4 linked regions of the Homo sapiens genome follow. The protein of the gene in region 1 purifies or fractionates together with the protein of each later gene. This does not show direct contact. Each region holds a gene or a part of one and is shown in the gene's direction. Other genes may lie near its edges.

Region 1 (3,500 bases):
CACAGGGTCTCTGTTGCAACTAACTCAACTCTGCCATTGCAGTGCAAAGGTTGCCCTAGATAATAGATGAACCAATGGGTGTGGCTGTTTGAATAGTGTTTTATTTACAAAAACCAGTGGCAGAAAGGATTTGGCCCTGTGGGCTGTAGTTTGCCAAACCCTGTTCTAGTTTAATAAGGATTGTAAGACACAAGATGTGTATTAAAGATAATTATAGGTGGTTTATTTGGGGAAAGTTTGGGAACAGTTCTTGGGAATCTGTCTACCTTTGGATATTTTGAATGCTAGACACATGGTCAAGGAGGAAAACTGGCCACAAATGGTAGTAATGGTGGGGACATTCTAAAGCACAGCTCAATGTGCCCTTTTCTGACTATTGCAGTGACATTCTACGAATGGATTCCACCAATGCAGATGCTCTGTATGTACGAGGTCTTTGCCTTTATTACGAAGATTGTATTGAGAAGGCAGTTCAGTTTTTCGTACAGGCTCTCAGGATGGCTCCTGACCACGAGAAGGCCTGCATTGCCTGCAGAGTAAGTTCTAGTCACCAGACCTAACTGGGAAAGAGCTTCCTTTTGGGACCTTTAAGATGGCTAGAGTGGAAGGTTTTAGAATCACAAGGAATGTGATAGCTTTTCCTCCTGCTTTGCAAGGATGCTTGGTCTTTATTAGAAATGGTTTCAGGACTACTTGTATTTACCTAAAGGTAGATGTGATCATATAGGGTCGGATGCCTTTAATATCTAAGAGGGTTTTTTTGTTTTGTTTTTCCCCTCAGTGAAGATAGATAGTAATACTTGTCCTGAGAAGTGAAGGCAGACCCAGTAACATAGGTCTCATTGGTATTTTTGGTAACTCTTTTCCTGTCCACTCTGTAGGAAGCTCAAATGAGCAACAGATAGCCCAGATTGGGGGTTGGCGGGGCTCTGTGATGCTGAACTGCTGGAAGCAAAGAACTTGAAAATAGAGTCTGGCCTCTCTGTGCAATGGTCTGAGGCTTTGTGGATATGAACCGATCCTCCCCTTGCTTTTTTCTGTAGAATGCCAAAGCACTCAAAGCAAAGAAAGAAGATGGGAATAAAGCATTTAAGGAAGGAAATTACAAACTAGCATATGAACTGTACACAGAAGCCCTGGGGATAGACCCCAACAATATAAAAACAAATGCTAAACTCTACTGTAATCGGGGTACGGTTAATTCCAAGGTAAGCTCTTGATCTAGATCTTGGGGCCTATAGAAATATTTTTAAGGGACATCAAAGGGTCTTGGGAAATCTGCCTAGTGAGGGTAAGCAAGATGAAAGAGGGAAAGTTGTTATGGTTAATAGTTTGTTAGGAACTCCCTTCCAAGAGGCAAGCTTTTGTCATCTCTATGGAATTTGAGGGCAGTTGGACAATTTGCAAGGATATTCTCACCTGTTCATTAAGGTCCCTTTCCTCCAGTAAGAGAATGGCTAGGGTCTGTGGGATAATCTTAAGCACCTACTGTTGCTTTTTTGTTGTTTTGCTTATGCAAGTGATCATTTATTTTTTAGGAGTGATTTGGAGGAAGAGTATGAGGCAAGCTTGTTTTTCTCCAGTGTAATTGATGGTCACCATGCATGGTTGAAAATGGCCTGAGTGCTTTTGTGGCCCTACCCAACATCAGAAACAAAAAGTAGACTCCTTGCCCTTGCAGAATTCTAGCAGTTAAAAATCAGAGTGATTTCTGATCCCTGCAGGTGACCTCTGGAAAAAAGGAGGGCAGGAACCAGCCTTACTATTTTCATGTTTTCATTGGGCACTAACATGGAATGGTAAAGGTAGTTTATCCTTGAAGACAGATGTGCCTGGCTTGTATCATATACAAGAGAAATCAATTTTGAAGTTGCTGTCCATAGCCCTGGTGACAAAGAACTAGAACTTAATATGACATTTAAGGGGCCAGCATGACTGATCCTCTTAGAGTTTTGAAGCCATGCTCACAGCTTCTGGGCTCCCTCAGTCACCAAAGGTGTGAAGTATGATTGCTCTCTCTCTCCTGAAGCTTAGGAAACTAGATGATGCAATAGAAGACTGCACAAATGCAGTGAAGCTTGATGACACTTACATAAAAGCCTACTTGAGAAGAGCTCAGTGGTAAGTGCCTCTGATGGGTAGGGGGAAGAGGGAGTTGCCGCTGGCCTCAGGGGAATTGCCTTGTGGATGACGAAGCAGACCCAGAGATGTTGTGAGGTCATTTGGTCCTTCCCCCTGCCTCTAGGTGGGATTGTTCCAGCCCTAGACTATCTTTATAGACCTCCAGCGGAGGAGATTGCACAAGCTCCCTCAGTCTCCCATGCCTGTGTCTAACGCCCCTCACGGTCAGTAAGTTTCCTCTGATGCCTGACCCAAATTCCTTTTGTTAAAAAGTTTAAATCCATTTCCTTTGGAGATTTTATTTTGTGTTGTACACTTATGCTCTACCCTGGCACAGTGCTTGACACATAGGTGCTCACTGAATAAATGTTTTGTTGAATGAATGTATGGTGCTTGGAAGAGAAAACAACTCTTGGAGACAGTTGAGAGTTGTACTTCATCCTGTTTGTTCTGGGCGAGGGAAGACAATCTTAGAGTTGGAAGAGATGTAATCCGGCTCAGCCTCCCAGGATAAAGGAACTTCCTTTTGAAACACCCTGGATGGCTACTCTCTGCTTGAGTGTTTTGAGTGGAGGGCACTCTGTGTCTGACAGGGTGATTATGAGCCAGGATGTGCCTACCTCTAATGCTCACATTTGCCCCAGAGTCAGGGTGCTCCCTGGCATGGTTGCTCCTCTTACTCTTAGACCCACCAGCTGGTTTTCTCCAGATAGGAACAGGGCTAGGAGAAATCTTTCTCAGAAATCCATCTCTTCTGATTTCAGATTATTCTCTAGGCGGAGAAAAACTTCCCGTCTTTAAAGTTCTTAGAGAAGATGTATTTATTGTATACTAATCCTCCAGCACCTGCTCCACTCCTTATTATAAAATGTCATATCCAAAGAACAGATGCTGTCACTGATGCCTGATGAGCCAGTAGTTTAAGCTTCCTTGTCTCATCAGTGGTACAGAATATCTCATGGACTACCTCCCACTTAGTTTTCTCAAAATTATCTCACTTAAAATAGGAAAACTGCTGCTGTGTGTGATGCTTTTTTTAAAAGTGAATTTCTAAGTTGATGACTAAGTCTGTCCAACAGAAACATACAGGGAATTATAACTTCTGTGAGACTGACTGTCAGTCATTCCATCTTTGCAAACCACTGGCACACAGAAGCAGAAGCTTTGGAAGACAAAAAAAGCACCCTTTGATTCAGCCAAAGACTGACTTTAACAGACGCAAAATGCTATATACATGAAGGTGTTTGCTGCAATTTTATCTATAATAGCAAAAAAAAAAAAAAAAAAAGGCGGGGGGAGAATCACCTACATGTCCAGTGGGAAGGGGGTGGCTAGATACTTGATACTGTATGAACTTAATGGAATGCTCTGTATATGGA
Region 2 (2,646 bases), on another chromosome or scaffold:
GGATTGAGCGGCACCGCCAGAAACCCTGGCTGCTTTTTTCCGGATTGGGTTGTGTGTGGTGTGTTTATCCTGAGATGGTATAGGCAGGGCTTTGGAAGGGGCGGCTGAGTGTGCCACGTTCTGCCTCATCCCAGATCCGGGAGACACGGAGGACTGTTCGGGATTCAGACAGTGGACTGGAGCAGATGTCCATTGGGCATCACATCCGGGACAGGGCTCACATCCTCCAGCGCTCCCGAAACCATCGCACGGGGGACCAGGAGGAGCGGCAGGACTATATCAACCTGGATGAGAGTGAGCCTTCCCTCCCGCTTCCTGGCTGGCAGCCCCTAACCCGGTTCCCGTGGACATCCCTAACACATAGACACTTCTGGGGCAAAGCTCTGGGTCAGCCCCATATTCCTTTTTTTTTTTTTTTGAGATGGAGTCTCGCTCTTGTTGCCCAGGTGCCCAGGCTGGAGTGCAGTGGCGCGATCTCAGCTCACTGCAACCTCCGCCTCCCGGGTTTAAGCAATTCTCCTGCCTCAGCCTCCCGTGTAGCTGGAACTACAGGCATGTGCCACCACGCCCAGCTAATTTCTGTATTTTTAGTAGAGACAGGGTTTCACCATGTTGGGCAGGCCGTTCTCGAACTCCTGACCTTGTGATCCACCCACCGACCGTTGGCCTCCCAAAGTGCCGGGATTACAGGCATGAGCCACTGCACCCAACTGTCAGTCCCATATTCTTACCGCACTTGGAGCCTCCTCCGCTCGGGCGGAGTCAGGTGCTGGCGGTGTCTTTGTGAGGGGCCTACTTTGTCCCTGAAGTTCCGTATTGATAGTGTTACACCCTTCTCCACCTTGATCCGTTTCTTTCTCCCCTCTTTATCTTTTTCAAATCCGCAATTATTAAGTACCTAGTGTGCACATAGGACTGTGAACCTGAACTGAAGAATAATCCCATTCTGATTTCTTCCTCCAGTAGGCCACCTTACGCCTACCGGTGGCTTCCTGGGACCGTGCAGAAACCAAAAGAGCTAAGGGAATTGCCACCCCACCCATCCCTGCACGCACACTCAGCCTTCGCCGCTTTGGCCCGAAAAGCTGTGGCTCGCTCGCACATCGGCCTCCAGGAGCCAGGCCGCACACAGGCCTCATGTCCGCTCTGTCCTTTCCAGGTGAGGCCGCAGCGTTTGATGACGAGTGGCGGCGGGAGACCTCCCGATTCCGGCAGCAGCGTCCCCTGGAGTTTCGGCGGCTTGAGTCCTCAGGGGCTGGGGGACGAAGGGCGGAGGGGCCTCCCCGCCTGGCCATCCAGGGACCTGAGGACTCCCCTTCCCGACAGTCCCGCCGCTATGACTGGTGAGGGCCCCGGGCCCTCAGCCTCTCTTGTAAGTATCAGGAGTAAGGAGGGTGGGGTGCACCTGCGGACGGTCCTCGGCTGCAAGGCAGGCTCAGTTCAGGCTCCCGCAGGAGCTGCCTTTGGTAGTACAAGTTGACATGGAAAGAGAACAATGTTCTCACTGACATAGGGGATTAAACCCCAACTCCTGGCTCTTAACGTAAGTTTTTTCTTCCTTTTGACTTGTGCTCCTCTCTCTTTCCCCCTCCAGGTACAGGCTGAGAGGCTGAGAAATCATCCCCTGAATAACTTTTTCCTCTCGATTCCCATCCCCAATTTAATATTAAATTAACAGGCAAGCCGGCCCCCACCTCTCCCTGGGGGTCTCAGGGAGAACCTTTCACGGCACCCTTTCCCTACCTTTTCCTTCTTTAATCTCCTGGTTTACCATTGATGACTTCGCCTCTGCATCTACTGACTTGATTTTTCATTCTGCCACTCCATCTTCAAACCCCCTCACCTTTCCCATCCTACTCCTGCCATGCATTGAAGGGTCAATGCATTTTGGGGTGAGCTCTGGGTTTAGGGGCCCCCTCCATCCCTCAGCTACCCTGGATCTTTGCCCACCTCTTCCTCAGAGCCCCCACTGAGGGGCCGTAGCCCTATCTAGGGCTGTGGAAGGAGCAGACTGGTTCCTAACTCTCTCCCTCCTCCTGCCCACACACATCAAAAGAATCTTCCCTACACCCTTCTCTGCCTTTATTTTTTGATTTGTGCAACTTGTAACTAGGTGTTTATGGAATAAAGGAGAATGGAAAAAAGACCAAGTGGGATTCTGGCTGTACTTTTGATCTTTTCCTGTTCAATTCAACCCTGCTGTCTCCTCTGAAGTTACCTTCTCACTTTTCCTCGTCTCCACCTGTAGTCTTCGTACCTCAGAGTTCAAGCCCACATCTCCTTGGTACGGACAGACCATCAGCACTGCCAGGTGCAGGCCGTGAGCACTTGGCTGGGCTAGGCTGGGGCGTGAGAACATGAGCACCTCTCTCGCTGGCTCTTCCCTCACATTCTGCTGTAACTTTGCTCTTCAGGGATGTGTTGGGCATCTCTCATGGGTGCCTGCGGAACTTGCTGCCCCTTGCCCCTTGGACAGAGTTTCTTTCCTGCACTCTGGGTGGAAACACTTCAGATAACCCTACACAGGCCTTCAGAGGGGAGGAACTCTGGTCTGCAGCGTTCCACAAACCCTCCACCCACAGTAGTTGAGAATTTGAGCCCAGGGAAGGAGCCTAGAGAAGAAAACTAACCTGGAACCTGAGCAGG
Region 3 (3,500 bases), on another chromosome or scaffold:
TCATTAGAGTGCAATATTTGCTTAGTTTTTTTCCTTTTGAGGTAAAATTTATGTAGAAGAAAATATACAAATCTTAAGTGTACATTGACTGAGTTTTGACAAATACATACACACATGTAACTCAAACCCAGTCAAGATATAGAACATGACCATCACCCCAGAAAGTCTTTTTCCTGACCTTTCCTAATTTATTCCTACCCTCATCTTCAGAGGCAACAAATACTCTAATTTTTTTCTTTCTGTCATACATACACATCTATTCTGCTTTGCTGAGAGTGTTTTCTTTTCCTTCAAGAATGTTGGAGCCAGGCATGATGGCTCATGCCTGTAATTTTAGCACTTTGGGAAGCTGAGGTGGCCAGATCAGTTGAGGCCAGGAGTTCGAGCCCAGCCTGGCCAACATGGTGAGACCCTGTCTCTACTAAAAATACAAAAATTAGCTGGGTGTGGTGGCGGGCACCTGTAGTCCCAGCTACTTGGGAGGCTGAGACACGAGAATCGCTTGAACATGGGAGGCGGAGGTTGCAGTGAGCCGAGATCGTGCTACTGCACTCCAGCCTAGGTGACAGAGCAAGACTCCGTCTCAAAAAAACAAAAACAAAAGAATGCTGGATTTTGTCAAATGTTTTTTTCTGCATCTATTACTATTATCACAGGATTTTTTTCTTTTTTAATCTGTTGGTGTGATACATTACATTAATTGATCTTTGAATGTTGAACTAGCCTTGCATACCTAGAATAAATCCCATTTGGTCATGACGTGTATGTTTAGCACTCAGTATCTCCAGGGGTTTAGTTCCAAGACCTGTGCAGATACCAAAGTCCACAACAGGGAGGGCATGGAAGCTCCCCACCACCTTACTTTGCTCTGTCCATCTCTTTATCTGTATCCTTTGTAATATCCTTTATGATAAACTGTTAAATATAAGTATTTCCCTGAGTTTTGTGAGTTATCCCAGCAAATTATCAAACCAAATAAAATCAGGTGCGAACCCTGATTTATAGCTGGTCAATCAGAAGCACAGATCACAGCCTGCGACTTGTGACTGACATCTGAAGTGAGGGGCAGTCTTATGGAACTGAGCCCTTACCATGTGGGATATGACATTATCTCTTTTTTTTTTTTTGAGACAGAGTCTCGCTCTGTCGCCAGGCTGGAGTGCGGTGGCGCAATTTTGGCTCACTGCAACCTCCGCCTCCCGGGTTCAAGTGATTCTCCTGCCTCAGCCTCCCGAGTAGCTGGGACTACAGGCGCCTGTCACCACACCAGGCTACTTTTTGTATTTTTAGTAGAGACGGAGTTTCACCATGTTGACCAGGATGGTCTTGATCTCTTGACCTTGTGATCCACCTGCCTTGGCCTCCCAAAGTGCTGGGATTACAGGCGTGAGCTACTGCGCCCGGCTCGATATGACACCCTTTCTAGGTAGATAGTGTCATTATTTAATTGAATTATAGTTAGTGTCTGTTGGAGAATTGTTTAGGGATTGGGGGAAAAACTTCACATATCTGGTTATCTAAGGGTTCTGTGTCGAATATGAGAGTAGAGAGAAAAACCTTTATTTTCCTTTGACAGTGTCTTATCATATTTATAGCTGTTTTCTGTTTTGTTATACTTGTTTCCTTTTTAAACAGTCTTCCCCTCCTCTTTTGCCCTCTCTGGTTTTAATTGATCATGTGATATGATTTAATTTTTTTCTCCTGTCTTAGCATACCAATTATGCTTCTTAAACAATTTATTTAAGTGGTTGTATTACAGTTTGTGCTGTTCACTTAAAACTAGTCCAAGTCCACGTCCAAATAACATTATAGGTCAGGTATAGTGGCTCACGCCTGTAATTCCAGCATTTTGGGGGACTGAGGCTGGCGGATCATTTAAGGTTAAGAGTACGAGACCTGCCTGGTCAACATGGTGAAACCCCATCTCTACTAGAAATACAAAAAATTTGCTGAGCATGGTAATGTGCGCCTGTAGTCTCAGCTACTCAGGAGGCTGAGGTATGAGAATCTCTTGAACTGGGAGGCAGTGAGCCGAGATTGTGCCACTTCACTCTAGCCTGGGCGACAGTGCGAAACTCTGTCTCAAAAAACACAAAAACAAAAATCCCACTATACTACTTCATGGAAAATGGAGGTAGTATATGTAATACTCTATCTTACAATACAGTATACAGATTCCTCCCTTCTGCCCATTGTAACATTGTTGTCATTAATTTCACTTACCTATAAGCTGTAATAATCCAATGCATTGCTGCTATTAGTATTTTAGACATTTTTCTATTAATTTAAGAATAAGGAAGAAAAGACTTAATTTACCTTCATCTCTTAATTCTCTAATGCTCCTGTGAATCTGAGTTTTTGGTTTAAATCATTTTCCTTCTTTCTGAAGAACTCCTTTATTTATTTGTTTTTTTTAATTTTTGAGATGGAGTCCTGCTGTGTTGCCCAGCCTGGAGTGCAGTGGCGCAGTCTCTGCTTACTGCAACCTCTGCCTCCTGGGTTCAAGCGATTCTCCTGCCTCAGCCTCCTAAGTAGCTGGGACTACAGATGCATGCCACCATGCCCAGCTAATTTTTGTATTTTTAGTAGAAATGGGGTTTCACTATGTTGACCAGAATGGTCTTGATCTCTTGACCTAGTAATCTGCCCGCCTCGGCCTCCCAAAGTGCTGGGATTACAGGTGTGACCCACCACACCCGGCCTATCTTAACCATTTTAAGTGTACACTTCATGTCATTAAGTACACTTACATTGTGCAACCATCACCACCATTCATCTCCTGACTTCACCATTATTCATCTCCTGAATTCTTCATCTTGCAAAACTGAACCACTTACCCGTTAAGCAATGACTACCCATTCCACCGTCTTCCCAGACCCCAGTAACCGTTATTCTACTTTTGATGTCTGTAAATTCGAATACTTGAAGTATAAGTGGAATTATACAGTATTTGCCATTTGTTATTGGTTTCTTTTACTTGGCATAATGTCCTCAAGGTGCATCCGTGTTGTAGGAAATGTCAGCATTTCAATAATTTTTCAAGCTAAATAGTATCCCATTGTATGTATATACTGCATTTTGTTTCTCCATTCATCTGTTGATGAATAGTTGGGCAGCTTCCACCTTTTGGCTGTTGTGAATAATGGTGTTATGAATGTGGATATTTTTCTTTGAAGTTCAGTCTGTGCTGTCAGATTTTTGGGTTACATACCCAGAAGCAGAATTACTGGATCATATAGTAATTCCATTATCAATTTTTTTGAGGAATTATCATACTACTTTCTATAGTGACTGCACCATTTTACATTCCTACCAACAGTGTACAAAGGTCACCATTTCTCCACATCCTCACCAACATTTATTTTCTCTTTTTTTGATAGTAGTTATCCTAATGGATATGAGGTGGTATCTTGTAGTTTTCATTTACATTTCTCTAATTAGTAATGTTGAACATCTTTTCATGGGCTTATTGACCATTTGTATATCTTAATTGGAGAAAC
Region 4 (3,500 bases), on another chromosome or scaffold:
AGGCAGGAGAATCACTTGAACTCGGGAGGTGGAGGTTGCAGTGAGCTGAGATCGTGCCATTGCACTCCAGCCTGGGCAACAAGAGCGAAACTCTGTCTCAAAAAAAAAAAAAAAAAAAAAAAAAACTTTTGGAGGTCTTGATTCTTGATGTGGTGGCAGTGGATATGTGGATATTGACATAACTTGCCCATCCCTCCACCTCCCACAAAAACTTTTGAGGTAACCACATGGGTTTAGACCTCCAGGTAAGACTGGGTAAATGTAAGGGAAAGGTATAAAATATGGTCTTCACTCACAAGAAATTTGTAATTTAATTATATTTAATTCTGCAAAGTAAGTGCAAAAAGGAGATATCAGATGGCATTTATGGAAGACATAATTGGTTGTAACTGAACCAGTGCCAAGGGGCTTCTTTGTTTTTTCTTTTTTCTTTTCTTTTTTTTTTTGAGATGGAGTCACTGTTGTCACCCAGGGTGGAGTGCGATGGTGCCATCTCGGCTCACTGCAACCTCAGCCTCCCAGGGTCAAGCGATTCTTTTGCCTCAGCCTCCCAAGTAGCTGGGATTACAGGTGCAAACTGCCATGCCTGGCTATTTTTTTGTATTTTAGTAGAGACGGGGTTTCACCGTGTCGCCCAGGGTGGTCTCAAACTTCTGAGCTCCAGCAATCCACCCTCTTTGGCCTCCCAAAGTGCTAGGATTACAGGCGTGAGCCACCACACCCGGCCCTGTTTTTTATTTATTTATTTATTTTTGTCCTTATTTATGTTGAAGGACTAGGGACTTCTTACAAGTGTGCTTGATTTGGTAGATTCCTCTGGTGCTGTATCAAAAAAGAACAAATTTAAAAACCAAGTATACTTGGTTTAGAAAGGTTTCATGGGGTAAGGATTACATGTTTGAAAGGAAAAGGCAACCTAGTGAAACAGTAAAAATATGCATCAAGGAAGAGATTCAAAAGAAAGTTCAGGCCGGGCGCGGTGGCTCACGGCTGTAATCCCAGCACTCTGGGAGGCCGAGGTGGGCAGATCACCTGAGGTCAGGAGTTTGAGACCAGCCTGGTCGACATGGTGAAACCCGTCTACCAAAAATACAAAAATTAGCCAGGCGTGGTGCCGGACACCTGTAATCCCGGCTACTCGGGATGCTGAGGCAGGAGAATCGCTTGAACCCAGGAGGCAGAGGTTGCAGTGAGCCGAGATTGTACCACTGCACTCCAGCCTGGGTGACAGAGTGAGACTCCATCTTAAAAAAAACAAAAGGAAGTTCAGGAAGTGGTTTGTCATCCAGGTTGCCCTGGACACTTTTGCATCCCATTGGGTCTTTGGGATTTTCTTTGTAGTATATCTTTCACGTTTTCTATTTTTTATCATATGAGATGATTATAGTCACCTGTATAAATGTTTCCTTATTAAGTAGTCACTATGTGCAAGGTGCTCATATATTTATTTTGTTTATGTCTATTATCTTTAGGTCAGATGTCATGTAATCCTTCCTTTGGTGGCATCGGAAAGGGACATTTAATGAGGGAAGTAGATGCCTTGGATGGCCTGTGTTCTCGCATCTGTGACCAGTCTGGTGTACATTATAAAGTATTAAACCGGCGTAAGGGACCAGCTGTGTGGGGTCTGAGAGCTCAGATTGATAGGAAACTCTATAAACAGAACATGCAGGTAAGAATAGGGCATGAGCACAGGAAAGATTATAGTGATTGTTTAATTACCATGTTTCAACTGGCATTTTCTTTTGACAGAAAGAAATCTTGAATACACCACTGCTTACTGTTCAGGAGGGAGCTGTAGAAGATCTTATTCTTACAGAACCAGAGCCTGAACACACTGGGAAATGCCGTGTCAGTGGGGTTGTTTTGGGTACGTATTGGTTATAGATGGTGTATGATAACAGCATATCAAATTCCATGTGAGAAATTTATTTTAGAGCAAAGTGTGGAGATATGTTGCTTATTCAAGGAACTTGTTGCATTTTCTCTACCTGGATGAGGAAAACTATATAAATAAATATGTTTCTCTTTTCATCTTGGCATTTATGATGCTCAGTCAAATTCTAGGCTCATCAGTACCATGTTCCATCTTAGTGTAGAACTTTGTAATCTGCATATTTATGTCTCCCTCTCTCCCCATCTTTCTATTGTAATTTCTGTTTTTTCTGGTTCTGACTTTAATTTTTTAAAAAATTCATATTTTAACAGCTTATATATATTTTTATGTAAAAGAGTTATGTATGTTTTTTATCAAAATAACTCATGCATATAATTTTTTCTTAAAATATTAAAAGGGTCTGGGCATGGTGGCTCATGCCCGTAATCCTAGCACTTTGGGAGGCCGAGGTAGGTGGATTGCTTGAGCCCCAGAGTTTGAGACCAGCCTCGGCAAGATGGCAAAACCTCATGTCTACAAAAAAATACAAAAATTAGCCGGTGTGGTAGCAGGTGCCTGTAGTTTCAGCTACTCAATAAGCTGAAGTGGGAGGATTGCTTGAGCCCAGGAGGTTGAGACTTCAGTGAGCTGTGATTATGCCACTGCACTCCAGCCTGGGCAACAGAGTGAGACCCTGTGTCAAAAAAAAATAAAAAATAAGTTTGGGTGTAGTGGCTCACACCTGTAATCCCAACACTTTGGGAGGCCAAGGCAGGCAGATCACCTGAGGTTGGGAGTTCAAGACCAGCCTGAACAACATGGAGAAACACATCTCTACTAAAAATACAAAATTAGCCAGGTGTGGTGGCGCATGCTTGAAATCCCAGCTACTCAGGAGGCTGAGGCCAGAGAATCACTTGAACCCAGGAGGCGGAGGTTGTGGTGAGCCGAGATCACACCATTGCTCTCCAGCCTGGGCAACAAGAGCGAAACTCTGTCTCAAAATAAATAAATAAATAAATAAATAAATATAAAAGAAATTTAGAAATTTATGTGGGAAAACAACCATCTCCTTCCCTGGAGACAGACACTTCAGCTTTTTTAGTTGTCACTTATTGTATATACTTCCATATTTCTGAATAGCAGGCTTATCTTTTTACTTCCTAATTTACAGTTCTAGACATTATCTATTAACTTTTTTTGTTTGTTTGTTTTTGTTTTTGTTTTTGAGACGGAGTCTCACTCTGTGCCAGGCTGGAATGCAGTGGTGCGATATCGGCTCACCACAACCTGAGCCTCCCGGGTTCAAGCGATTCTCCTGCCTCAGCCTCCTGAGTAGCTGGGACTACAGGCACGTACCACCATGCCCAGCTAATTTTTGTATTTTTAGTAGAGATGGGGTTTCACCACGTTGGCCAGGATGGTCTTGTTCTCCTGACCTTGTGATCCACCCGCCTCGCCCTCCCAGAGTGCTGGGATTACAGCTGTGAGCCACCGCACCCAGCCATCTATTAACATTTTTTGAGACAGAGTCTGGCTCTGTTGCCTAGGCTGGAGTGCAGTGGTACCATCTTGGCTCACTGCAACGTTCCCCTCCCAGGTTCAAGCAATTCTCCTGCCTCAG

What was found.
Region 2: the proteins of DNAJC7 (region 1) and MLF2 purify together in Homo sapiens (affinity purification with mass spectrometry; 3 studies listed by BioGRID and IntAct, with this or other methods). This does not show direct contact.
Region 3: the proteins of DNAJC7 (region 1) and VPS13A purify together in Homo sapiens (affinity purification with mass spectrometry; 3 studies listed by BioGRID and IntAct, with this or other methods). This does not show direct contact.
Region 4: the proteins of DNAJC7 (region 1) and MTO1 purify together in Homo sapiens (co-immunoprecipitation; 3 studies listed by BioGRID and IntAct, with this or other methods). This does not show direct contact.

What each region holds. Positions count from the first base shown.
Region 1 is NC_000017.11:41,986,440-41,989,939, reverse strand, and holds part of DNAJC7 (dnaJ homolog subfamily C member 7), read left to right. Parts: intron 1-382; coding exon 383-536; intron 537-1,043; coding exon 1,044-1,208; intron 1,209-2,029; coding exon 2,030-2,121; intron 2,122-2,245; exon of another isoform or gene 2,246-2,345; intron 2,346-3,500. UniProt on the Homo sapiens protein: Acts as a co-chaperone regulating the molecular chaperones HSP70 and HSP90 in folding of steroid receptors, such as the glucocorticoid receptor and the progesterone receptor.
Region 2 is NC_000012.12:6,747,496-6,750,141, reverse strand, and holds the end of MLF2 (myeloid leukemia factor 2), read left to right. Parts: intron 1-134; coding exon 135-294; intron 295-1,159; coding exon 1,160-1,347; 3' UTR 1,348-1,372; exon of another isoform or gene 1,373-1,594; 3' UTR 1,595-2,146; downstream 2,147-2,646.
Region 3 is NC_000009.12:77,184,034-77,187,533, forward strand, and holds part of VPS13A (intermembrane lipid transfer protein VPS13A), read left to right. Parts: intron 1-3,500. UniProt on the Homo sapiens protein: Mediates the transfer of lipids between membranes at organelle contact sites. Binds phospholipids. Required for the formation or stabilization of ER-mitochondria contact sites which enable transfer of lipids between the ER and mitochondria.
Region 4 is NC_000006.12:73,464,737-73,468,236, forward strand, and holds part of MTO1 (5-taurinomethyluridine-[tRNA] synthase subunit MTO1, mitochondrial), read left to right. Parts: intron 1-1,472; coding exon 1,473-1,672; intron 1,673-1,752; coding exon 1,753-1,870; intron 1,871-3,500. UniProt on the Homo sapiens protein: Component of the GTPBP3-MTO1 complex that catalyzes the 5-taurinomethyluridine (taum(5)U) modification at the 34th wobble position (U34) of mitochondrial tRNAs (mt-tRNAs), which plays a role in mt-tRNA decoding and mitochondrial translation.